7 linked regions of the Homo sapiens genome follow. The protein of the gene in region 7 purifies or fractionates together with the protein of the main gene of each other region. This does not show direct contact. Each region holds a gene or a part of one and is shown on either strand. Other genes may lie near its edges. The genes, in order: SERPINB1, HP, SERPINB2, MVP, ANXA8, CRABP2 and DDX19B.

Evidence for each region.
Region 1: the proteins of DDX19B (region 7) and SERPINB1 purify together in Homo sapiens (affinity purification with mass spectrometry; 2 studies listed by BioGRID and IntAct, with this or other methods). This does not show direct contact.
Region 2: the proteins of DDX19B (region 7) and HP purify together in Homo sapiens (affinity purification with mass spectrometry; 2 studies listed by BioGRID and IntAct, with this or other methods). This does not show direct contact.
Region 3: the proteins of DDX19B (region 7) and SERPINB2 purify together in Homo sapiens (affinity purification with mass spectrometry; 2 studies listed by BioGRID and IntAct, with this or other methods). This does not show direct contact.
Region 4: the proteins of DDX19B (region 7) and MVP purify together in Homo sapiens (affinity purification with mass spectrometry; 2 studies listed by BioGRID and IntAct, with this or other methods). This does not show direct contact.
Region 5: the proteins of DDX19B (region 7) and ANXA8 purify together in Homo sapiens (affinity purification with mass spectrometry; 2 studies listed by BioGRID and IntAct, with this or other methods). This does not show direct contact.
Region 6: the proteins of DDX19B (region 7) and CRABP2 purify together in Homo sapiens (affinity purification with mass spectrometry; 2 studies listed by BioGRID and IntAct, with this or other methods). This does not show direct contact.

Annotation. Positions count from the first base shown.
Region 1 is NC_000006.12:2,831,864-2,835,363, forward strand, and holds the end of SERPINB1 (leukocyte elastase inhibitor), read right to left. Parts: intron 2,150-3,500; coding exon 1,745-2,149; 3' UTR 469-1,744; downstream 1-468.
Region 2 is NC_000016.10:72,057,505-72,061,555, reverse strand, and holds the end of HP (haptoglobin isoform 1 preproprotein), read right to left. Parts: intron 3,303-4,051; coding exon 3,201-3,302; intron 2,443-3,200; coding exon 2,368-2,442; intron 1,445-2,367; coding exon 666-1,444; 3' UTR 501-665; downstream 1-500. UniProt on the Homo sapiens protein: As a result of hemolysis, hemoglobin is found to accumulate in the kidney and is secreted in the urine. Haptoglobin captures, and combines with free plasma hemoglobin to allow hepatic recycling of heme iron and to prevent kidney damage.
Region 3 is NC_000018.10:63,894,205-63,897,704, reverse strand, and holds part of SERPINB2 (plasminogen activator inhibitor 2), read right to left. Parts: intron 3,253-3,500; exon of another isoform or gene 3,169-3,252; intron 2,442-3,168; coding exon 2,322-2,441; intron 615-2,321; coding exon 486-614; intron 1-485. UniProt on the Homo sapiens protein: Inhibits urokinase-type plasminogen activator. The monocyte derived PAI-2 is distinct from the endothelial cell-derived PAI-1.
Region 4 is NC_000016.10:29,833,962-29,837,461, reverse strand, and holds part of MVP (major vault protein), read right to left. Parts: coding exon 3,396-3,500; intron 1,759-3,395; coding exon 1,664-1,758; intron 741-1,663; coding exon 504-740; intron 1-503. UniProt on the Homo sapiens protein: Required for normal vault structure. Vaults are multi-subunit structures that may act as scaffolds for proteins involved in signal transduction. Vaults may also play a role in nucleo-cytoplasmic transport.
Region 5 is NC_000010.11:47,470,805-47,474,115, forward strand, and holds part of ANXA8 (annexin A8), read right to left. Parts: intron 3,262-3,311; coding exon 3,166-3,261; intron 2,217-3,165; coding exon of another isoform or gene 2,158-2,216; exon of another isoform or gene 1,395-2,157; intron 1,388-1,394; coding exon 1,329-1,387; intron 581-1,328; coding exon 458-580; intron 1-457. UniProt on the Homo sapiens protein: This protein is an anticoagulant protein that acts as an indirect inhibitor of the thromboplastin-specific complex, which is involved in the blood coagulation cascade.
Region 6 is NC_000001.11:156,699,106-156,702,583, forward strand, and holds the end of CRABP2 (cellular retinoic acid-binding protein 2), read right to left. Parts: intron 1,948-3,478; coding exon 1,769-1,947; intron 1,554-1,768; coding exon 1,437-1,553; intron 972-1,436; coding exon 921-971; 3' UTR 501-920; downstream 1-500. UniProt on the Homo sapiens protein: Transports retinoic acid to the nucleus. Regulates the access of retinoic acid to the nuclear retinoic acid receptors.
Region 7 is NC_000016.10:70,305,686-70,309,185, reverse strand, and holds part of DDX19B (ATP-dependent RNA helicase DDX19B), read right to left. Parts: intron 1-3,500. UniProt on the Homo sapiens protein: ATP-dependent RNA helicase involved in mRNA export from the nucleus.

The sequences.
Region 1 (3,500 bases), on a different chromosome or scaffold from region 7:
TAACTATTTCACCATTACATAAATTAGATGCTCTCCACATAAAATACGCATTGGATTCTAGTCTCTGCCCTGGAACTCACCAATTGTTTTGACCTTCAACAATTTACTTATAGTCTATAGGCCTGTTCCCTCATATATAATTTGAGCGGGCTCACTTGGGCCCCTACAATTCAGTTTCTACACAATTAACATGATTTACTCCAAATCAGAGTGGATTTTAGGATGAGGAACCAAAAGAGAAGACTTACAGAAGGCAGAGTTTTTCCTGAGAGTGAGAAAACCTGGAATATGGTAAGTATTTTAAGAAAGCGGGAGAAAAGAAAGTTTGTTGGCAAAAGAGTTGCTAAAATTTTGTTGTTAACATGTGGAATTCCTCTCTACCAACAATGTTGTAAGGCCAATAATCCCCACTTGCAGTCTTAACTTGTCTAGGGATAGGGGGCAATAAGAAGAGGCCTGAGACCAGTCTAGCTTGCAGAATCCTAGGACGTTTTATTAATTCATGATGCCCACTATCCTTGTGGGAGCAAGAATATGCGGCGTTTCAAGCTCCATTCAAAGAACTACATTTGACAAAGTTTTATATCAGTCCAAGAGCCCCCACCCCATCTCCCCACACAGCCTTGGAAGTCAAGAGCCTTAATCAGAAAACACATGAGAAGGCCAGGCATGGTAGCTCATGCCTGTAATCCCAGCACTTTGGGAGGCTGAGGTGCGCGGATCACCTGAGGTCAGGAGTTCGGGACCAGCCTGGCCAACATGGAAAAACCCCATCTCTACTAAAAATACAAAAATTAGCCAGGCCTAGTGGTGCATGCCTATAATCCCAGCTACTCAGGAGGCTGAAGCAAGAGAATCACTTGAACCCAGGAGGCAGAGGTTGCGGTGAGCTGAGATCGTGCCACTGCACTCCAGCCTGGGTAACAGAGCAAGACTCTGTCTCAAAAAAAAAAAAAAGAAAGAAAGAAAGAAAAAGAAAAAGAGAAAAGAAAACACATGAGAAGGTGGCTAACAGTAAAACCTTTGTTCAGCAGTTTATCTTACTACATGGTTATTTTTGTAGACTCTTGGTATCTTTTATCCTAAGACACCCACTTCTTGATTTCATGCAGCGCCACATGAACTATATATTATACATAAAGAAGAACAAAAAAGGGAATGCAGGTTATAACCATTGGCCCTTTAATTGAAGAGTCTAAAAACTAGAGGTCTGTAACAGAATACTAATCCTGCAGAACAAGGGACAGAAAAGTCAGGCGAGGCAAGCTTGTCTTCGTAACCTGGGCTCTCAATTGGGGTGCTCTCTTACATTTCAATTGAATATCTGTTTTTAAACCTCCCTTCAACAGTCAGGGTGTCTGTCTATTTTGTGGCTTCCAAAATTCTAACTGCAAAATAAATGACCATCTTATCATGTTTTCCCATGGCTATCAGGAGGATATAGCAATTTTATAGATTACTACATGGTCAAGAATCTACGCATCGGATGTATTCTTTTCTTCTTCTTTACTTGATGCATTCAAAAGCAACCACTGGATTTTTTTCAATGTAAAAAAGAAAAATAGATACCCATGCCAAAATTCATGGGTGTAAACAGCCAACAGAGCCAAACTTACAAAGAAAATGAAAGACTTGTTTCTGAACAGTGGTTTTATTGGTAAAGATATAAGACATATTGGCTCTATTAAAAACTCAGGTAATAAAGCACTAAGCTTGATTTTTGTATTGCTACAGTCTCTTTCTTCTAAGGGGAAGAAAATCTCCCCAAGAATAGGATGCTACCTGAGGAATTATGCCGAATAAAGAAAAGGAATGGATGGTCGGCAGTGAAATTTTCTTCGGGCATCAACATGCAGAAAGTTGCGATGCCTGCTGTGGCAGCTGCCGCCTCTGTTCCCTCTTCATTCACTTCCACAAATGACTTGTGGACAATTTTTGATATAAAAATATCTCTGGCTCCTGACATGCCAGACAGATCAGCCTTGCTACTGTTAAAGAGATCCTGCACACCTAGGCGGGCGAGGTCGGAGTTGAGAGTGTAACTCTCTTCCAGTTTGAACCTGGGCAAGCTGACATTAACTTCAATGAAATCGAGATTCTCAGGTTTAGTCCACTCATGCAACTTTTCCAAAGTCAACTGTTCCTCAATCTGCAATTAAAAATGAGGCGAAAGAGGAAGTGATATCAATTTTACATAAGTAAGGCAATAAAGTATTATTGAATCAATGGACCCATAATATCAGTTGCTAGTTAGTTTCCTTCATGTTTTGTGCCAAAACAGATTCCATTTGGAGCATTTTATTTCATTATGGCAATTGGTGAAATAGGGCAGAGGTGGTGTTCCAAGTCATCAAAGGTTCAAGGGATTTGTACATTGGGTCCATCATCCACTCACCCACCCATCCACCCATCCATCCACCCATTTGTCCACTCATCCATCCATCCATCCATCCATCCATCCATCCATCCATCCACCCAGCTACCCAGCAACACAGCCACCCATCCATCCATCCATTTATTCACCTATCTACCCACCCACCCATCCAACCATCTATCCACCTATTCATCATCCATCTACCCATCCACCCATCCATCCATCCATTCACCTATCCACCCACCCACCCATCCAACAATCTATCCACCTATCTATCATCCATCCACCCATTTACTCATCCACCCATCCACCCATCCATCTACCCATTCATCCATCCATCCATTCATCCAGGGTTTACTAAACCCCTACCACAATGGATTACAGTGATAGGTCATGACAGCTGCTATTACTTCCAGGTTGAGTAGTGCTAGAAGAAATTTAAAATATTTCTTCTATTTAGTCTGAATCCCACTGAAGCTGAAGTAATATCTAATAACTTTAGCTCCTAGGTAAAAATTTTAAAGGCAGATTATGCACTGGAGCTAGTTCCTCATCTGAAATGTGATGTGGACATTACTTATATCTACCTTATAGATTGTTGAGAGCATTAAATGAAATGATGTATATAAAGTGCTTGGCCCATAGTGCTACATAAATGTCAGCTATTATCATTACTATTGTTATAGCTATTGGACTGGAATAGAACCATCACTCTACTTCTTCTAATGGTGCTGATAATTCCTTTTAAGAGGCTAGAGATTTTCACTTTACAATCAGAAAAAAAACTAATGCAAAAATACAACCAAAAGAAAGGCCACATTGATTGTTATACAATGTATTAAAAGTCTGTACATGCAAATGATTAACATTAGACCCCCTTCCTGATAGCAAGGATGATGAATAGGTGGATAGGGAGGAGACGGAGAGCACAGAGCAGGCTAGAGTCCCTACATATAATGGAAACCTCATGCAAAGATCATACTAGTAAATAGGCCTAACATGTCACATGAGGCTTTTTCTGTCTTGTACCCATTGAAAATTTAATTCACTATCTATATGAATTGTGATGAGAACAAACAGTGTAATAATAGAATTTTATAGTACGTGATGAAGATATATGCTACAC
Region 2 (4,051 bases), 1.8 Mb from region 7:
TTGTCTTTTGTTTTCTGGAGTGCTGGTAGGTTAGATCCCAAACTCTGAAGTACTGTCTGTGTTAAAACACTTTTTCCCCATCCCATTTTGAGCTAGCCTCTTCCTCAACCAGGCCCATGCCTTTTCTCCTAATTCACTTTGAGGAGGCAACAGCATGCAGTGAAAGGACCTCTGAGTTTGTATCAAACAGACCTGGGTTCAAAGTTCTGCTTCCCTGTTTCATAGCTATGTAACCTTAAGCAACTCACTTACCATCTCTGAGTCTCTGTTTCCTTGTCTGTAAAACAAGGACAACAGTTAACTTTCTGGGACCTAGCATTCAATAGGCACTCAATCAGTGAGCATGATTCCCTAAGGTGGAAGAGTTTGTATCACCTTCGGGATTTCCAGTGGGTTTAGGGTGTTTTCTGCCATACTCCCAGTAGACTCTATACCTTCTGACTACCCTGGACCATAAAGGAGCAAATAAAAAAGACTCAAGACTGAACACAACACAGAAATGGGTCAAAAGAAAGCTCTTTATTGATTGACTCAGCAATGCAGGGCTGGCACCCATCAGCTTCAAACCACATCTTATCGCATCCACTCCTGTCCACTCCCGTCCACTTTGCCCTCTTCCAGGCTGAAATCTTGCTTTCAGGCAAGGGCTTCCGGCCAGCCTTGCATTAGTTCTCAGCTATGGTCTTCTGAACCCAGTCCTGGATGGAAGTCACCTTCACATACACACCATACTCAGCCACAGCACAGCTCTTATCAAAGCTTAAGATCCCAGTCGCATACCAGGTGTCCTCCTCCAGGTCGTGAACGGCAAAGGCACTGCCCGCATCGCCATAGCAGGTGTCTTCTTGGTACTTAGACATGCCAGCACAGAAGGTGTGTTCATTCAGTATGGGCTGCACCCCTACAGGGCTCTTCGGTGTCTTCTTTTCGGGGACTGTGCTGCCTTCATAATGCCTTATGCATTGGTCTTGGTCAGCCACAGGCAGCATGACATACTTCAGATGGTCAGTAAATTTAAAATTGGCATTTCGCCCCCAGCCAGAAACATAACCCACACGCCCTACTTCTGCATAATCCTTTGAAGGTAGGCAGATGGGCATCACTCTCTCATTAACAGACACCTTCTGTTTGAGTTTGATGAGCCCAATATCTACCTGGGAGTAGTTAGGGTGTAGAACAACCTTCTCAATCTCTACAAGCTGCTTTTTCCCCACATAGAGTGTTAAAGTAGGGGCAATGTCTTTCGCTGTTGCATTTTCTGAATGGTTCAGGAAGAGATTTTTAGCCGTGGTCAGCAGCCATTGTTCATTGATCAGCGTGGCACCTGTGGTGAGATTATGGTGGGAAACCATCTTAGCCTGCCAGGGAAAGCTGCCTTTGGCATCCAGGTGTCCACCCAGGATCCGCTGCACTGGGTTTGCCGGATTCTTGGGCTTCCCACATACTGTCAAGGAGAGCAAGACACTCGTGAGTGGAAATGTGCAAGAGCCTTTCCATCTGAGAAAGGGGTGAAAGCATGGGCGGCTGTCACTGCTGCGTAAAGTAGAAAGATTTAAATGCTTTGCCCTTACCACCTGCTGATCTCATTTCCAATAGTTGCAGTTTTAAAATAATTCTGTTTTTTAAATTGTTTACATTACAAAAAGCTCTATTTCCCACTTTTCTAACAAAGGAAGTGGGAAATACTGAGATTTTTGAGCCCTGGCTGGTGAACTGTATTATATTTAAACAATTATCCCAATAAAGGAATTTCCACAATTCCCTGAAATTCATTGAAAGGGCTAGGGGCTACAATAATTCATTCTCTCTAAAGAAAGATGAATCTAGAGCAGCACTGGCTGGAGCTCAGATTTTGTAGATGGTGCAGTTAATACGAGGCAGGTTGGCATTTCCACACCAGTAAGAGCAGAAGAGGCTGGGCCTTTGCCTCTTGTTCTGAGAATGAAAGGAGAGAGCAACAGCTCCTCCTAATAACGAGAAGCAGGAGTTCCAGCCCATGTCCAGCCTCCTGCTAGGCTTCCATGGATTAAGATTTTATGTCATTCCTTGACTTGTTCTCCCTGGAGCTTGCTTCTCCTTAGACCCAGGGCTCTCTAGCAGGCTCTCTGTATGCACAGGCTCTCCTAATCTGTGGGCGATGTAGACAATGGATTCAGCCAGTGCCCTTCAGGCCCTAATGAACAAGACCCTTGGTGACCCTTAGGGAGTCATCACCTAACTGCTTAAGTCTCTCCCTGGCCAGCTGCGGTTCTCCCACATCCCTCCTCCTGGCTCTTGTGTGCTCAGAGGAAGCCGCACTGGAAGGCTGTGCCTCTAGGACGTTCCCCGCTGGACGCCTGCCTGCTCTCTTAAGTGCTCAGCACCCACCTGCTTCACATTCAGGAAGTTTATCTCCAACAGCCTTATTTATCCACTGCTTCTCATTGTTTAAGGTGTACACTCCTGAAACAAAAGGCAAGAAGTGAGCCAAAGGAGAAGTCAAGTCTAGACCCCGTGCAGAGTGAGAAGGCATTTAAAGAGAAGAACTAAAAGGAAGAGGAAAAGGGGACAAAAAGGAAGGGGAAAAGGAGAGAGTATATGAGAAGGAGGAAGGGAAAGAGTGCTGTGCTGGAAGCCAAGTGCCTGGATGCCAGTTAAGCCCAGCAGAACACACTGTGGTCATGGCGGTCACAGCCAAGCAGTACAGGGAGGGCTCAGGGTTCAAATCCTGACTCTGCCTCTTACAGGCTGCCTGAATTTGGGCAAGATACTCAACCTGTCTGTGCCTCAGTTTCCTTATCAGCAAAGTGAAAACAATAAACTCTGTTCAGAGGGATACTGTGAGGACTAAGTGAGCAAATAAGTATAAAGCCCTTAGAGCAGTGCCAGGACAGCAAGACTCACTAGGTGAGGGTGACATCATCATCAGCATTCCTTCTTTTCCCACATCTGCTGGAGATGTAAATGTGACTCTGAGATTTACATGAGGTAGGCTGCATGGCATCGCCTCCCCTTAACAAAACAGAAAACTTGAGGCTGACAAAAGTTAGTCTGCCCAAAGGGCCATGGCTACTGGCGACAAAACGCTTATTAGAATCTAAATCTCCTGGCTCCAAGGAGAGCAACGAACTTTCTGGCGAATCACCTCAGCACCACCCATCATGGAAATGTCAGAGAAGGGGGTTGTATGTAGGGCATGGAGACAGTTGTCCACATCTTACCATCTCCTTCTGTGCGCAGTTTGTAGTAGTTCTTACACTGGTAGCGAACCGAGTGCTCCACATAGCCATGTGCAATCTCGGGGGGCTTCGGGCAGCCGTCATCTGCAAAGAGAGAGAAGCCAGAGAGTTTGCTATTTGGAAATTGTTCCCAGTGAACCGTGAAAAGTCAGATGAGCGGGAGCTGCTCTGCACATCAATCTCCTTCCACCCCGAATAGAAGCTCGCGAACTGTATTATTTTTAAACAATTATCCCAATAAAGGAATTTCCACAATTCCCTGAAATTCATTGAAAGGGCTAGGGGCTACAATAATTCATTCTCTCTAAAGAAAGATGAATCTAGAGCAGCACTGGCTGGAGCTCAGATTTTGTAGATGGTGCAGTTAATACGAGGCAGGTTGGCATTTCCACACCAGTAAGAGCAGAAGAGGCTGGGTCTTTGCCTCTGGTTCTGAGAATGAAAGGAGAGAGCAACAGCTCCTCCTAATAACGAGAAGCAGGAGTTCCAGCCCATGTCCAGCCTCCTGCTAGGCTTCCATGGATTAAGATTTTATGTCATTCCTTGACTTGTTCTCCCTGGAGCTTGCTTCTCCTTAGACCCAGGGCTTTCTAGCAGGCTCTCTGTATGCACAGGCTCTCCTGATCTGTGGGCAGTGCCGACAGTGGATTCAGCCAGTGCCCTTCAGGCCCCAATGAACAAGACCCTTGGTGACCCTTAGGGAGTCATCACCTAACTGCTTAAGTCTCTCCCTGGCCAGCTGCGGTTCTCCCACATCCCTCCTCCTGGCTCTTGTGTGCTCAGAGGAAGCCGCACTGGAAGGCTGTGCCTCTAGGACGTTCCCCGCTGGACGC
Region 3 (3,500 bases), on a different chromosome or scaffold from region 7:
AGGCTACATAAAATACATACCAAACAAGCCATGGCATAATGGTGAATTATGGTCTTCCCATTGAAATTAGGAGACCTGGGGTAGGGTGGGAGTGGAGGTTGGCTATGGAAGGCAGGTGCTGAAGGGGGAAAGAGTGCAGACCCCTTTGTCCACGCTTACTCCCCAACTCTATCCACCCTCTTGTACTCCTTGCATTATAGAGACAGAATAAAAGGAAAGAGGTTTGACTTGGGGGATAGTGTCTCTGGAAAACAGTTGCATTTGTTTTCCTGATTTATGACTCTGAGATTGGGACATTTGCAATGGGAAGAGGAGGAAGCCCCAGAGGGTACAGGAAGGGCAGCTGTTACGCAAGGCCAGCCCTAGGGAGCTGGTGTGGAATTCCAACTCTGCTTTTATGAACTGTTGAATTGTAGAGAACTGCTTTGAAAGTGACTTCATTACTTGTTTGGGATCCAGCCATTTCAATTACAGGTTTCACTTACTTCCCGGAAGCTCGCAGACTTCTCACCAAACAGCTTATTGACACTTTCCAGTAAATAATTCCCTGTGGATGCATTGATTGCAGAGCTGAGAGAGCGGAAGGATGAATGGATTTTATCTGCAGCTTGTGCCTTGAAAAGAAAGAAGGAATTCTTTATATATAACACAGAACTACTAAACAAGATAGTTCTTAAGCCATGGTAATAGTTTTTGAATACAATCATGAAATGCTATATTAATACATACTTTATTTTTGGTACATTAGAGGAATCTTTGAGAAAATCATTTCGATAAGGATGTGGTACATTAAAACTAATAAGGTGAATTTTAATTTCTTTCCAATTTTGCTCTGTCTATGGATTGGATTTAACCAGGTGACCAACAGCCTAGAAGAAAGGCCCCTTCTCAGTTTCCTAAACTTCAAAGTCTCTAAGGAATTTTTGTTGTATTTATAAGATGGATAAGTTCTGGGGATCTAATGTACAGTATAATGACTATAGTTAATAAGATTGTGTTCATTAATAGTTATAGTTAATAAAACTGTTTACTTGAAATTTGTGAAGAATATATTTTTTAAGTGTCCTCACTATACATACACACATACATACAAATGGTGGGTAATTGTAGTGATGGATGTGCTCATTAATTTGACTGTAATCATTTCACAATGTATAGGTATAGCAAGTCATCACACTGTACATCTTGAACATGTACAATTTTTATTTGTCCATTATACCTCAGTAAAGCTGGCAGGGAGGAAATGTTGCCTTAGTAATGATCTTACAAAGTTCATATAGCTTCTCTAGATACCTATTTTATGGGGCAAACTATGCAGTGGAAAACATGGGTTTTAGAAAACCACAAAAGTGAATGGTTATTTCAGTTCTCAAACTGAAGTTTGTAAGCACCATGTCAGACACAGGGCTTGGTCACAGCAGCAGCCTGTCCTAGGGCAGGGGACAGAGCCCTCCTGATGGACTGCCAGGTACCACAGAACACCTGGCGGAATCTCCACATGATCAGGATCCTGTCCACCTCCTCTAGCCCATAATTCCCTGGGCAATGGGTAGAAGGAGCTTCAGAGTGCCCAGGAAGAGAGCTTTGGGAGATACCTCTTCATAATCTACCTCATAAGCATGACTGTGGAAGTTGGTTGCCAACAGGAGCAGTCTATACTCAGTTTTTATAATTTAACTGGATAGCTGACATTTAAGGAAATGGAGTACTGAGGAAAGGTGTTACTCCCCGAGATAGCTGATTGATAAATAGATAAGATAGACAGATGACAGAGAAGATAGATGATAAATAGATGATTCATAAAATATATAGATAGATAGGATTGATAGATGTATGATAGGTAAGATAGATGAGAGAGATCAATGATAGATGATAGATTAGATAGATAGAAGGAAAGTTACCTGAAGGTCAGTGATTTCTCATGCAATCATTGGGCCCAGCCTTCTGCCATTTCTCAATCAATTGTCAGTCCCTACCCTCTCTCCTCTGGAAATCCTTATCCATACACGTGTATTCTAGGAGTCTCTACTGTGGATTTATGATAAATTACACATACCTCACCAATGACAGAGAGGCATGAGAGAATTTAGAAGTAAATAGGCTTGGCCTAAAACTCATGAAGTCTGGATTCTGTCCTGGCTCGTCTCTCGTTATGGGTATCATCTTAGGACATGTTTTTCTTAATGACTCTGAGTCTTAGTTTTCTTTCTGTGAATGGGGGAGGGTATATTCGCTTCCTTCCCAGTCTGACACTGTGGCTTTAAGACAGGAAGATTGCAAAAATAAACCACAAAAGAAATTTGGACCAGTAAGTCAGATACCTGCAAAATCGCATCAGGATAACTACCCTTCTGGATCTGCTGCATGAACCCACAGCTGGTAAAGTTCTCTGGAGTCATGGGGGTAACTGCATTGGCTCCCACTTCATTAAACTGAAGCACCTGCAATCAGAATTAGAGAAAACGGTTACACTTGCCCACGGATTTACTGAACTTTTAAAACAGATGGCTATCAGGTGGCTCTAAAATGGTCCTAGATCTTTTCCCTTCCCTTATACATGGGGAACAACCATAGATACTCAATACTCTTTCTGTGTAATATAAAAGTATCAGCCAACCTAAATTTCCCTTATAGAAAACAGCATGAGGTGTTTTAGATTAATTTATATCCTGGCCATTTTGGAAAACAAATTGTTATTATGAAATGATTTAAAACCTCTTCCCCAAATTATCTAAATTATATCCAACCAATAAATGGTCTTGAAAAAAAAATGCCAGTATTTTAAAGAAAGTCACAAGATTAACTCAGAACCTTGTGTGTCTCTCTCTTTTCAGTGGCCTTATACACAAAATACTTTCAATCTGTCAAAAACTACAAGCCAGAGTCAGCTAAGGCATAAAACAGGTCATGCAATATTAACAGGGTTCACCTAAAATATTTACACATACCATATTCATACACAGAGAAATTTATGTCCATGTGAGGGACAAGTTGGTCTGATGACACTGTGAATCTCTTCGTATAGTAAGTAGGCAGTTTTGGCTGACACGGGGAAGCTGGCAGCAAGGACTGTCCCCTCTGAAGCTTCCTCAGATCCCCTTCCCACAACACTGCTGCCTGCCCGCCTTGGTCTGCCAGTCTTAATACCTGCAAGCTGGCCCTGCCTCCCAGCCACCCACCCCATCCCACCTCCTTGGGAACCCTTGGTCCTGCAGCACCTCCCTATGGGGTCCCTGAGGAGAAGCTGATCTGGTAAGTGGCTTGATGGTTGGGGTTCTGCTAATGAAGTTAATTAAGGCAGCCTTGTCCAGCAAGTTGGTGAATTTCTGGGCTAGAAGGAGAGGTGTTAGGGTTTGTGAGGTCTTTTTCTGCTCTTTGAGTCATACATCGTAAGTCCTGCCTAGTACTCTCTGAAAAGAAGTGGTGCAACTCCACCCTCACGTAAAAGAAGAAGATTTCCTACGACAGCTTGGCTGGTTTTCCTCTCTTCCAAGGAAATT
Region 4 (3,500 bases), about 40 Mb from region 7:
TTTTATATTGTATTTTTACCTTACCTTTTCTATGGCTAGATACACAAGTACTTGCCATTGTGTTCAGCTGCCTGCAGTATTCAGGACAGTCACATGCTGCACAGGTTGGCAGCCTAGGGGCAGGCTACGCCATCTAGACTAGGTGCCATCTAGGTTTGCATAAGTGCACTCTTTTGCACAAAGACAAAATCATCTAAGGACTATTTCTCAGAATGTATCCCCATCATTAAGTGGCGCATGACTGTATCAGAGTTTCAGAGTCTCAGGCAGCGGGTAGCCAGGAGGCCTTCCCAGAAGGGGAATTAACTTCAGGTCTGAGGGGTAAGTCAGAGGCTGCCAGGAATCAAATGGGCCAGTGTCTCAGGTGTGTAAGAACTAAGCATGCAAAGGCACAGAAGGTGTTCCTAGAACGTGCGTCTGGAGGAGAGAAGGCAGAGGGCCTCATGCCACTAGAGGACATACATCTCCCAGGGCAGTCCTCTGTGGGGGTGTAGGGACCTCACCTTGACCACGCGCTTCTGCCCCAGCTGATTCTTGCCATCCGGTCCGACAGGGTCGAGAATCACGCAGTAGTTGTGGGGGCCCAGGGTGGTGATGGGCACAACCCCCAGCACCTCCTCGTGGACATCTGGCACGTGGGCCTCTGTGTCCTGCACTGTTACCAGCCACTCCTCCCCAGTGCGGCGGGACACTCCCCTGAAGTCCCGGAAGTTCCGCCGAGCCCGGAGGTGCAGGGCTGTCTGCAGAGCAACATGTTGGGTATTTGAGTGACCTGCCTCCAACTTCAGGGGATCTGCGAGCCCCATTGGCCACCAAATGCTCCCAATGCTCCCAGATCTCAGAGACAATTTCTACCAATCCAGGGATTGTTTTTTTTTTTTTTTAAATCGGAGTCTCTCTCTTGTTGCCCAGGCTAGAGTGCAAAGGTGCGATCTCAGCTCACTGCAACTTCCGCCTCCTAGGTTCAAGCGATTCTCCTGCCTCAGCCTCCTGAGTACAGCTGGGATTACAGGTGGGTGACACCATGCCCAGCTAATTTTTGTATTTTTAGTAGAGATGGGGTTTCGCCATGTTGGCCAGGTTTGTCTTGAACTCCTGACCTCAGGTGATCCTCCCACCTCAGCCTCCCAAAATGCTAGGATTACAGGCATGAGCCACTGCACCCGACCGGCTTTGTTTTTTTTTTTTTTTTTTGAGACAGGGTTTCGCTCTGTTGCCCAGGCTGGAGCACAGTGGCATGATCATGGCTCACTGTAACCTCTGCCTCTGGGGTTCAAGCGATTCTCCTGCCTCAGCGCCTCTGGAGTAACTGGAATTACAGGCATGCTCCACTACACCCAGCTAATTTTTAAATTTTTTGTAGCGATGAGTTCTCACTGTGTTGCCCAGGCTGGTCTCAGACTCCTGGCCTCAAGTGATCCTCCTGCCTCAGCCTTCCAAATTGCTGAGATTACAGATGTGAGTCATTGCGCCCAGCCCCAGAAAGACTATTTAACCCTTCAGATGATCCAGAATACTCAGGCAATCTGATCTCTGAATTTTTTTAAGTGACCCTAAAATTATTGCTTCTCTTTTACTCTCATGCCATTCTACCACCATTCTCTGCCACTCGGAGGGTTCCCTAGCCCCAGGTCCCTTAAACCACAGCCCCCAGAGCACCAACCTTTTCCGTAAGGATGACGGCGTCCACCAAATCCAGAACCTCCTCAAACACCGCTGGGAGGTACGCCCCTACTGTGGTGACCAGCCATTCTTCCCCTGGGCCAAGAGTGGAGGGTAAGGGACAAGGGCCCCCCAGCCTGCTCCCCACCTACCCCTCCCCCACAGCTTAGACACAGGGGATTGACAGATTTCATAGGCAAAAAGATAGCACTGACCCCAGGCTCAAGTTCCTGACTGCGGTCCTCTTATTCATTCTTTTGAGGCCAAACCCCCACCCCAGTTGAATTTTAAAAGTTTTTTTTTTTTTTTTTTTTTTTTTGAGACGGAGTCTCCCTCTGTTGCCCAGGCTGTGATCTCAGCTCACTGCAACCTCAGCCTCCTGGATTCAAGTGATTCTCATGCCTCAGCCTCCTGAGTAGCTGGGATTACAGGCACGTGCCACCACGCCCGGCTAATATTTGTATTTTTTGTAGAGATGGTGTTTCACCATGTTGCCCAAGCTAGTCTGGAACTCCTGGCCTCAAGTGATCCGCCCACCTTGGCCTCCTAAGATGCCCAAGTTGCTGCTATGCCAACAGCCTGTTCTGCCTTCTCTAAGCTCCAAAGACCAACTTTTGTCCTTCTGCTAAAACAGGCAGCAGAACTGCCTCTGTTAGAGTTGTGGATGTCCTTTGGTTTACTGGAGAAGCCAGAGTGCCTGGATGCAGGTCCCAGCCTCGCCCTGCCTGGCCACACCCCAGGGCAAGCAACCTGCATTCTGCATCCCAGTTTTGATATATAGAAAGTGGGAATGGCCGGGTGCGGTGGTTCACGCCTGTAATCCCAGCACTTTGGGAGGCCGAACCTGGTGGATCACGAGGTCAGGAGATCAAGACCACCCTGGCTAACATGGTGAAACCCTGTCTCTACTAAAAAAAAAAAAAAAAAAAATACAAAAAAAAAAAAAATTAGCTGGGCATGGTGGTGGGCGCCTGTAGTCCCAGCTACTCAGGAGGCTGAGGCAGGAGAATGGTGTGAACCCAGGAGGCGGAGCTTGCAGTGAGCCGAGATCGCGCCACTGCACTCCAACCTGGGCAACAGCAAGAAAGCAAGACTCCGTCTCAAAAAAAAAAAAAAAGTGGGAATGGTAGCACCTCGGGGTAGTACCTCTGTGGCCCAGGATGGAGTGCAGTGGTGCAGTCACAGCTCACTGCAGCCTCCACATCCTGGGCTCAAGAAATTCTCCCCCTTCAGCCTTCTGAGTAGCTGGGACCACAGGTGTGTGTCCAAGGCCAGGCTAATTTTTAAATTCTCTGTAGAGATGGGGTCTCACTGTGTTGCTCAGGCTGGTCTTAAGCTCCTGGGCTCAGACGATTCACCCACCTTGGCAAAGTGCTGGGATGACAGGTGTGAGCCACTGTACCTATTGGCCTACATTTGTCAATTGTATTTGAACATCTTCTTTGTTGATCCAGAATCAGGTAAGTCATGGCCACTGCCCACAGCTCATGGTGAAGGTGAGGGAAGGAAAAGCCACATCCGCATGGTCATGGTCACATTTTCCAGCCCAAGTGGAAACAGCATGAAGCGGGGGTGGGGAAGGAAGAGCAGTGGGTGGCCCTCAACAGCTTTCAAAAGATACCAGGAAAGCGCCTCTCTGGGGCTACAGGAGGCTTTCCTCAACCTTCCCCTGCTTCCCCTGCAGTGGGGACCCCTCCTGCCCACCCACCATCATCGCCCCTTGGTGACCCCACCTGTCACCCTCTCCTTGCCGTCCCGGTCCCAGCACTCCTTGCGGGCCCTGAGCCGCAGAGCCTGGTTCTGCCTGATGATGGTGGCCTGAATGATCTCCACGACCT
Region 5 (3,311 bases), on a different chromosome or scaffold from region 7:
TTTGCTAATTGGAATCTGGTTAGATAGTCTATTGGCGCTCATCTGACTTATCTCCTTAGAAGTTGGCCGCCAGGACTACTTAAATCTGGATTTGAGCGGTGGGCCCGATTCCTACCGGACTAGTTCATCTCATTGACTTTTCAGAGGTGGCTTCTTCTGCAAGGATTTGGTGTCTTTTCCAAGGAGCAACCATAACTTAAATGTGAAACCAACTTTCTGAGTGGGACACAGGGGAGCCTCTGTGCCCTGGTCTCTGCATCTCCCCTCTGCCCCCCATTCCCCTTGGGATCCAGCCACACTGACCTCTGCTGTTCCCTGCACACACCACATGGTCATGAATGCAAGCACATGGTGCCCACTGGGAAGGGAGGGGCTCACGTAGTGTTGGCCACAGCCTCCAGGTTTCCCTGAATGTCTGGGTTTCAGGCTGGCCTCAGCATTGGGAATGCCTGCTTACCATGATCATGCTGCTGAGGGTCTTGCCGTACATCTTCTTGAAGTGACATTTGATAAGATTTAAGTCAATCTCGCTCCTTGAAACGATGTTTCTTATCAGGGTCCCATCACGCGTCCCTGCTCCCTGGGCAAGACAGCAGCCATCAACAATCCTGCCTCACCTTTCCTGTCCATCTCTGAGTGATGGACGGATCTGTGTGGTTGGGTTCTGGGGCTTTTAGAGGGAGGGAGATGTGGGAAGGAGCCTGTGCTTCAGCCAGGGAAGCATTAGGAGGGAAGCTTTGGTGGCTTAGGGTGTCCACTCCCTTAATTCCTTCTCACCCACTGCCCAGAACTCTTCCTTTATGATGCCAAGTGCTCCAAACTGCAGTATGTTTGGTTTGCCACATCAGATTCTAGACACAAAATACTCACTGCTCCAGGAACAAGACTTCCTACTAGAGCAATGGCAGCAATCAGCTCAGCCAGGAATTTCACAGGCAGGGCCTTCCTGCTCACCTTCATCCCTGACCAGTCTCATGTCAGCTGGGGCCACATGGCCAAGGGAATCGCATGCCCTCTCTCATTTCCTGGGCAGAAGTGGCCAGAGGGCTTGGGTTTCGGGTGTGGAACTAACTTCAGGGGATATCAGCAACCATCAATCAGAGAAAACGGGCAATGGTTTTAGTTTCAGGGAATTATTCACCTCTGGAGATGCAGCGTCCCTTTCCCAGACTCAATTTCACCTCCGAGAACTAAAACCTTTCTGATCCACGACAGGTTTGGGTAAGATAACTCCCCCGTGTGGAGGATCGTGGTGGCTTTGAGCTCCTTGGCTTTGCACTTGGTGCTATGTAGGGTGAGCGTCAGGAAGAAGAAGACAGGACAGTTACCTTCATGGCATAGTAGAGTCTCTCTGCAAAGTAGCTGTGGAGGTTTTGGGTGCATTTCACTGGCAAACAAGAAAGCTGTGTTAATGTCTGGAGCTGGTAGGTGGCACTGCCTACAACTTTATGTCTTGCCTTAGGTCTTAAGAGTCAGTGTTGTGCAAGGCTTGGCATATTTCTTTGTTCCGTGCCTTTCCCAATGTGAGAGGCTTTGTGTCAGGTGGCGTGGGACAGGGAAGGTAGCCCGGGGCACTGGGCACAGCTCCAAAGGCCCAAGCAGGCAGGCAAAAGGGTAAGATGTGAAATGCACCAGACTGTGGGGCTCGTCTGAAGACACCAGCTCAAGCCCATCCAAGGGCAGCTCAGACTCAGGACAGGCCCTGGGCTCTCAACCCAGAGACACCTCCACCAAAAATCCAGCCTCTCAGCTCCACAGAAGCACCATGGGATGGTGGCTGCTGGCCTCAGAGTGCCCTCTCTCTCACACTTATCAGCAGGAACCCTGCATTTTGAATTCCCATGTGACAAGTGGAGTTTGGCCCCACAGGACTAAGGCACCTGGGGGCGTCTGGTCCAGAGACTGGGCCCATGCTTGCTCCCATGGGTACTGCTCAGAGACTTGGCATCTGGGTGGGGAAGGTTGGCATTTTCACTTAGGGCTGCAGAAGGAGCATGGGCTTTGAGTGAGGTAGGCATGTGTTCACTTCCTGCCTTGATGGTGCAGTATGGCTTCATTACTCAACCTCCCTGACTCATCTGGGAAGTGAGACTGATGCGAGGCTTCAAGGTGAAGTGAATAGGAAGGCCCAGCATGACGGAGCACTGCATGGCTTCACTATTCCCTGCTGGCAGACTTCATTCTTGGTGGGTTCAGGCCAGATCCAGGGGTGGAAGCTGAGATTGGAGCAGGGGTGTGATTAGATGTCCTGACATAGACCGGATTGTATCACAGCATCCAAGGCCAGCTGGGGTGTCTCAGATGGCCCTGTCCACCCAGAGAGGCTAGGAAACAGCAGGGAGCCTGCTGGCTGCTGGCTTTGCACGGAGGCAGCCTGGTGTGGAGGTGAGAGCTGCAGGCCAGGAGTCCGGACCTGGGCTCTGTGTGTAAGTGGGAGAAGAGACGTCCCTCTGCCCTGGGCCTCAGCTCTTTACTCTGCAGTGACTCTTCCCATTGTGATCTCAGCCCTGGAACCCATGAGAGCTCTGGAGTGGGTCCTCCTGAGTGGCCCTGACTTCCTGCTGTGGGGAAGATCCCCAGTGTTTCTCAGCATCAGACCATCCGTCACTCAGTTTGGACTCAAGCCACACATCACTGTTTCTTCAACTGGCAATGAAGGCAGGGGCCAGGCCCCTGGTTCATGTCCAGAAAGATGACTTTGTGCTGGCCAGGGCTTCACAACCACAGCCAGAGTGCTCCCTGCATGGCTGCCATGAGTACACACAGGGTTGGGGCTGGCATAATCACTGGCGTATGCATTTGTGTGCGCACACACACACACTGTCTGTCTCACACACACACACTCACATTCCACCCACAGTCATGCACACACACCCTCAGGCACACACACTCTCACGCACACACACACTCATGCAGACACACCCACACAGCACTGGGCACCACGTGGGCAGCACAGAGAACAATCTTTGGCAGCACACACTGGGACTCTAGAGGTGGAGCAGTCCCTGGGTGAGGGAGACAGGCAGAGTGTGAGTCGGGGGGACATCCCGTGAAGGTGACACAGGGATTCTTTCTCTTGTGGTCGCATCCCTAGGCCCTTTGTTCTTTGGTGCTGCCCCACGGTGAGCCCTGTGGCCTGAAAAACGTGCAAGTCTGAGCTCTTACCCACAGTGAGCATGGCCTCCTCCAGTGAGCCATGGGTCTCACTCTTGATGCTGTCCTCAATGCTCTTGTTGGCAATTTTCTCATACTCTTCAAACACTGTGGAGAGGGCTCTGCTCAGGGGATGGTCAGACCTCCTCGTGATGCCC
Region 6 (3,478 bases), on a different chromosome or scaffold from region 7:
GGCAGGATGAGACCTCTCACCCAGAGGCCCAGGCAGCTGCAAGGCCAGCTTGTGGGTGCCGTTGAGCTCATCTGGAACCATGTGGGAGGCCAAGGCCAGGCCTGGGGTCACCCATGGGCTGAAGCTGGAGGAGAGGGAAGCAACAGCTGGAGGAGGAGGAGGAAACTGTCACCATGATGGAAAACATGGGAGAAGGTGGGAGTCAGCTCCTCAGAGCCCAGTGCCCCAGCTGAGAGGTCAGGAGGAGGAGGCCCTTGTGACCTTGGAAGCCAGAGCAGGACACCAAGGAAGGACCTTGGAGAAGGGAATGTGGAGGTGAGGCTTGTGGATTCAGCAGCAAACGAAGGGGTGGTGGTTAGAACGGTGACTGGAAGGACTGTCCTCTCCTGTTGTATAACTCAGTTCCATGCTGCAGAAACACAAGTCTTTCCCATACTACATTTCAGAGGCAAGGTTGAACTCAGGTGACTTATCTACCTGCCCAATGAGCCAGAGACAGGTTTTATTTTTTTAAAGCATTTTAATAAAATTAACAAATAAATATTCTAAACTGTATAGGCTACAGGGACAAAGGGTAGAAGCTAGAGGGCCAGTCTTTCCTGCTCAGGCCCTCAAGTCCCCTTTAGAGAGACCCTGCTCTGGGCTGGTTTGGGGCTAGGACTGCTGACTTGGGGAGGCGGGGAGTGAACCCGGAATGGGTGATCTGGGCTCTTGCAGCCATTCCTCTTTGTTGGTGTAGGGGAGGAGAGAAGAGGTCAAAGAAAGCAAGACCCTGCAAGAGGCATCCCAGTGACCCCCAGAAGTGACTGGGGTAAGGGGAGCGCTATCCTAGAAGGAGGGGGTGGGACGGAGGGGGCAGTGAAGCAGGGCGGTGAGCATGGCCAGTGGTGGGCTTCGGCCGCGGTTCTACCTGTGGCCACTCACTCTCGGACGTAGACCCTGGTGCACACAACGTCATCCGCCGTCATGGTCTGGAAGGACAGAAGTAGTTGTTAGCCTGAGAGGCCCCTGGGGTCCTGTGGCTTTGGAGAGGAGGGTTGAATGGAGGTACTCTGCTTGGCCTCCAGGTCCAAACCTGCTTCTTGGCTCAAGACCAACAGGCAGGAGCTGGTCCCAGAATGCCCAGGCATCAATGGAGGGAGGATAGCAATAGAGCCCCTGGGGCCCGTCCTCCTCCTCAAGCCAGGAAGATCTCCCTGAAGAACTGCTGGGATCCCTCAGTACATGCCCTTTGCTTGCATAAAAGGAACACCATTTCTAATTCACACAGGGCACTGTATGGGATAGGGACACCTTAGTTCTGTTCAAGCAGTCCCATCAGCAGGGTGCGGAGTCCAGCCATGGTTGTTCTTGAGTCTCCTGCACCCTGGGGTCTCCCAGAGAATCTTGGAAGGTAGCACTGGGTTTGCTATTAGTGGGGAGGAGGCAGGACTTACCAGGATCAGTTCCCCATCGTTGGTCAGTTCTCTGGTCCACGAGGTCTTGGGGCCCTCTCCCTTCAGGAGCTTCTGCTCACAGACCATTTTATTCTCACTCTCCCATTTCACCAGGCTCTGCAAGAGACAGGTGGCCAAGTGAGCTGGGCCCATAGCAGGGGCAATGCAGTGAGAGGGATAAGGGAGAGAGCCCCTTTCTAGCCCCCACCACCACCTAGGGATTTTCCCTACTGGGACAGAGAGAAGCTAGGAGTTAACTGCTAGCCTGGAAAATGGCAGGTTGAGAGGCAGGGCAATGACGCCATGACCCTGGAGCCCCTTCTGGCACTCACCTTACAGGGCCTCCCATCCACAGTCTGCTCCTCAAACTCCTCCCCAACCTTGAAGTTAATCTCTGTGGTGCGCACGGTGGTGGAGGTTTTGATGTAGAAAGTGTCTCCCTCCTGTTTGATCTCCACTGCTGGCTTGGACGCTGCAGCCACAGCAATCTTCCTCAGCATCACATTCACCCCTGTGGGGAGAGAGGAGAGGCTCACCTTTTAGGGGCCTTTGGGCACCTCTCTCACACCCTCCCCATAAGACAGTTGGAGCAGGCTGATTTGTGACTTGCTTGGGGTGGGTGTGTTGGGGGGTGCATCTGCCTGGTGCCTGGGTGTCTAAGAAAGTGCCTTGAAGGAGACGGTAGGCGGTGCAGCCCTGAAAGATGAGGGGGTTTAGGGAGGAGAGGGAGAGAGGCAGTGGCCTGCCCCTGGGAGTCCTGTTCCTAGCTGTGGCCCCACCTTGTTGAGTCAGCAGGTCTGGATCAGGCTCCCCACGTCTCAGCTCTTCAGTCCCAGAATGCCCAGGGGCAGCTTCTCCCCAGCCCCCTACCCAACAAACATCCTGCTACTGGCTCCGGTTGTCTCTGTTTACTTCACTTTTGGCCTTTTGTCTACCCTGTTGACAGCTCATCAGAGTCACTGGGACTGTACCCCTGGCCAAGCACAGGCCAGACCCCATCACTCATGTCCTGGGAAGTAGGAGCCATTTCCCTTTTTGCCCTATCTACCCACCGTATCTAGTGCTAGATAGGTCTTCATTTGCCCAATTTCTGCCCCACAGCAATGAAAGAGAGCAGGGGCAGCTGCTTCCCTCTACAGAATGGTCAGCAGCCTGGGAAGACAGAGGCTCTGGAGTAAGGTCCAGGAGGCTGTGATTTCCTCCTGGCTCAGCCCCCTTACAGGCTGGGTGACCCTGAGCAAATGGCTTAACCACCCTGAGCCTTAGATTCCTCAATTGTAAAATGGAAATAACAGCTTCTTCAAAAGCCAATCAAGGTTGGGTATAGTGGCTCACACCTATAATCCCAGCACTTTACAAGGCCAAGGCAGGTGGATTGTTTGAGCTCAGGAGTTCGATACCAGCCTGGGCAACATGCTGAAACCCCGACTCTACCAAAAAAAAAAAAAAGCCAGGGCTGGACGCAGTTGCTCACACCTGTAATCCCAGCTACTCAGGAGGCTGAGGCAGGAGAATTGCTGAATTGCTTGAACCCGGGAGGCGGAGGTTGTAATGAACCGAGATCATACCACTGCACTCCAGCCTGGGTGACAGAGAGAGACCCTGTCTCAAAAACAAAACAAAACAAAAGTCTGGGCGCAGTGGCTCACGCCTGTAATCCCAGCACTTTGGGAGGCCGAGGCGGGCGGATCACGAGGTCAAGAGTTCAAGACCAGCCTGACCAGCATAGTGAAACCCCATCTCTACTAAAAATACAAAAATTAGCTGGGCATAGTGGCGCGCACCTGTAATCCCAGCTACTTGGGACGCTGAGGCTGGGGTAGGAGAATCACTTGAATCCGGGAGGCGGAGGTTGCAGTGAGCCAAGATCACACCACTGCATTCCAGCCTGGGCGACAAGGCGAGACTCCATCTCAAAAAAAACAAAAAACAAACAAACAAACAAAAACGACCTGGCGCAGTGGCCCATGCCTGTAATCCCAGCACTTTAGGAGGCCGAGGTGGGTGGATCATCTGAGGTTGGGAGTTTGAGACCAGCCTGA
Region 7 (3,500 bases):
GAAGTTTCTGGTCCCTTTCTGCTTTGGTGTTGGGAAAGAGGAAAAAGAAAGGGAACACATTAAAGAGATTAGAAAAAAGCAACTTAACAAAAAGGAAACCATTCAACTGGAGAAAGCCGACTGAAAAACAAACAAAAAAAAAAAGAAATCATTATAAAGCAGTAAAAATCCTTCACTAATTCTGAAGGATAAAGAATACACTAATGGGGGAGGGCAGTGGGGGACAGCATTAGGAAAAAGAGCTAATACATGTGGGGCTTAATACTTAGGTGATGGGTTGATAGGTGCAGCAAACCACCATGGTACATGTTTACCTATGTAACAAACATGCACATCCTGCACATGCACCCTAGAACTTTAAAAAAAAAAAAACAGCTGGGCACAGTGGCTCACACCTGTAATCCCAGCACTTTGGGAGGCTGAAATGGGAGGCTCCCTTGAGGCCAGGAGTTTGAGACAAGCCTGGGCAACATAGTGAGACTCCACCTCTATAAAGATTAAAAATAAAAATATTGACAGGGCATGGTGGCTTGTGACTTGAATCCCAGCACTTTTGGAGGCCGAGGAGGGAGGATCCTTGGAACTCATGGAGTTCGAGACAAGCCTGGGTAACATAGTGAGACCCCATCTCCTAAAAAATAAATAAATAGGCTGGGCATGGTGGCTCATTCCTGTAATCCCAGAGCTTTGGGAGGCTGAGGCAGGCTGATCACCTGAGGTCAGGAGTTCGAGACCAGCCTGACCAACATGGTAAAACCCTGTCTCTACTAAAAAAATATAAAAAAAATTAGCCAGGTGTGGTGGCGCAGGAGGCTGAGGCAGGAGAATCACTTGAACCTGGGAGTTGGAGGTTGCAGTGAGCCAAGATCACACCATTGCACTCCAGCTTGGGCAACAGAGTGAGACTCTGTCTTAAAAATAAATAAATAAATAGACCGGGTGTGGTGGCTCACGCCTGTAATCCCAGCACTTTGGGAGGCCGAGGCAGGTGGATCACCTGAGGTCAGGAGTTCGAGACCAGACTGGCCAACATGGTGAAAACCTGTCTCTACTAAAAATATAAAAACTAGCTGGGCATGGTGGTGGGTGCCTGTAATCCCAGCTACTCAGGAGGCTGAGGCAGGAGAATTACTTGAACCCAGGAGACAGAGGTTGCAGTGAGCCGACATGGTGCCACTGCACTCCAGCCTTGGCAGCAGAGTGAGACTCCGTCTCAAAATAAATAAATAAATAAAAATAAATACATAAATAAATAATAAATTTAAATAAATTTTAAAATAAAATAAATAAATATATTAGCTGGGCATGGTGGTATGTGCCCATAGTCCCAGCTACCAGGGAGGCTGAGGTGGGAGGATTGCTTGAGCCCAGGAGTTCCAGGTTACAGTGTGCTATGATCTTGCCACTGCATTCCAGCCTGGGTGACAGAATGAGACCCCATCTCTATTAAAAAAAATACACACATATATACACACACACACATATATACATACACACACACACACACACATATATATACATATGGCCAGATGTGATGGCTCACGCCTGTAATCCTAGTACTTTGGGAGGCCGAGATGGATGGATTGCCTGAGCTCAGGAGTTCGAGAGCACTGTGGGCAACATGATGAAACCCCATCTCTACTGAAATATGAAAAATTGGCTGGGCATGGTGGCACGTGCTTGTAATCCCACCTACTTAGGAAGCTGAGGCATGAGAATCGCTTAAACCCGGGAGGCAGAGGTTGCAGTGAGCCGAGATGGTGCCACTGCACTCCAGCCTGGGAGACAGTGCGAGACTCTTGTCTCCAAAAAATAAAAAATAAAAAAAGACATATTATTTCATAGACAATATTAATCTTAAAGATTAATGATGCAGCTGCTTTGGAAAACATCCTGGCACTTTCTCAAAAGTTAAATACAGAATTACTATATAATCCAGCAGTCCCACTTCTAGATATATACCCGAGTATTGAAACTATATGTCCACACAAAAACTTGTACATTAATCAAAAGCAGTATTATTCATAGTAGCTAAAAAGTAGAAATAATCCAAATGTCCAGAAATTGATAAGTGGATAAATAAAATGTGGTATATCCACACAATGGAATATTATTTGGCAACAATAAGGAATAAAGTACTGATACATGCTACAACTAATGAACCTTAGTTCATTATACTAAATAAAAGGAGCCAGTCACAAAGGATCACATACCGTATGTTCCCATTTATATGAAATGTTTAAAAGAGGCAAATCTAAAGAGACAGAAAGTAGATTAGTGATTGCCTAGAGCTGGGGAGTTTGTAGGGAAACAGGGAGTAACTGCTAATGTGTACAGAGTTTCCTTTTGGGGTGATGAAAATGTTCTAAAATTGACTGTGATATAAGCTACACACTTCTGAATACACCAACCATCAGTGAACTGTACACTTTAATCTCACCATAATGTCATAATAATAGGGTCTCAAGATTCTGTTTCATAAAATGCAGGAATTTGTTGTTGTAAGGTTAATAAAATGGCTAGTTTGGGCCTGCTAAAAACAGCAAGAGTTAATCATTTCATACCTGAGTTTTTATTATCACTGGATTCATTATTATGAGTTTCTGTTCTATCCAAAAGATAACTCTATGATGCAAACTCAAGCCAAAAAGAAAATGTCAAAGCTACCTACTCCTAACAAACCCTCTTAGGCACATTAATAGGTTAAAACAATGACAATTTAACCTGACCTGAATGGCCGGGTGCAGTGGCTCATGCCTATAATCCCAGCACTTTGGAAGGCCAAGGCAGGTGATAGCTTGAGCTCAGGAACTTGAGACTGCCCTGAGCAACATGGTGAAACCCTATGTCTACAAAACATACAAAAATTTGCCAGGTGTGGTGGTGCACACCTGTAGTCCCAGCTACTTGCAAGGCTGAGGTGGGAGGACTGCATGAGCCTGGGAGGTCAAGGGTGCAGTGAGCCATGTACACACCACTGCATTCCAGCCTGGGTGACAAAGTAAGACTCTATTTCAAAAACAACAACAACAACAAACAACAACAACAACAACAACAAAACTGACCTAACAAGAAGTTAGTTAAAATAGTCAAAACTCTCAGAACTAAAAAATAAAAAAAACAGGCCGGGTGCTGTGGGTCATGCCTGTAATCCCAGCACTTTGGGAGGCCGAGGCGGGCGGATCACGAGGTCAGAAGATCGAGACCATCCTGGCTAACACGGTGAAACCTCATCTCTACCAAAAAAATACAAAAAAATTAGCTGGGCATGGTGGTGGGCGCCTGTAGTCCCAGCTACTCGGGAAGCTGAGGCAGGAGAATGGCGTGAACCCAGGAGGTGGAGCTTGCAGTGAGCCGAGATTGCGCCACTGCACTCCAGCCTGGGCGACAGAGTGAGACTCTGTCTCAAAAAATAAATACATAAAAATTTAAAAAATAATAATTAAAAAAACAAAAAACCTCTCAGAACTACTTGAAACACATATTTATCTCTACGTTGA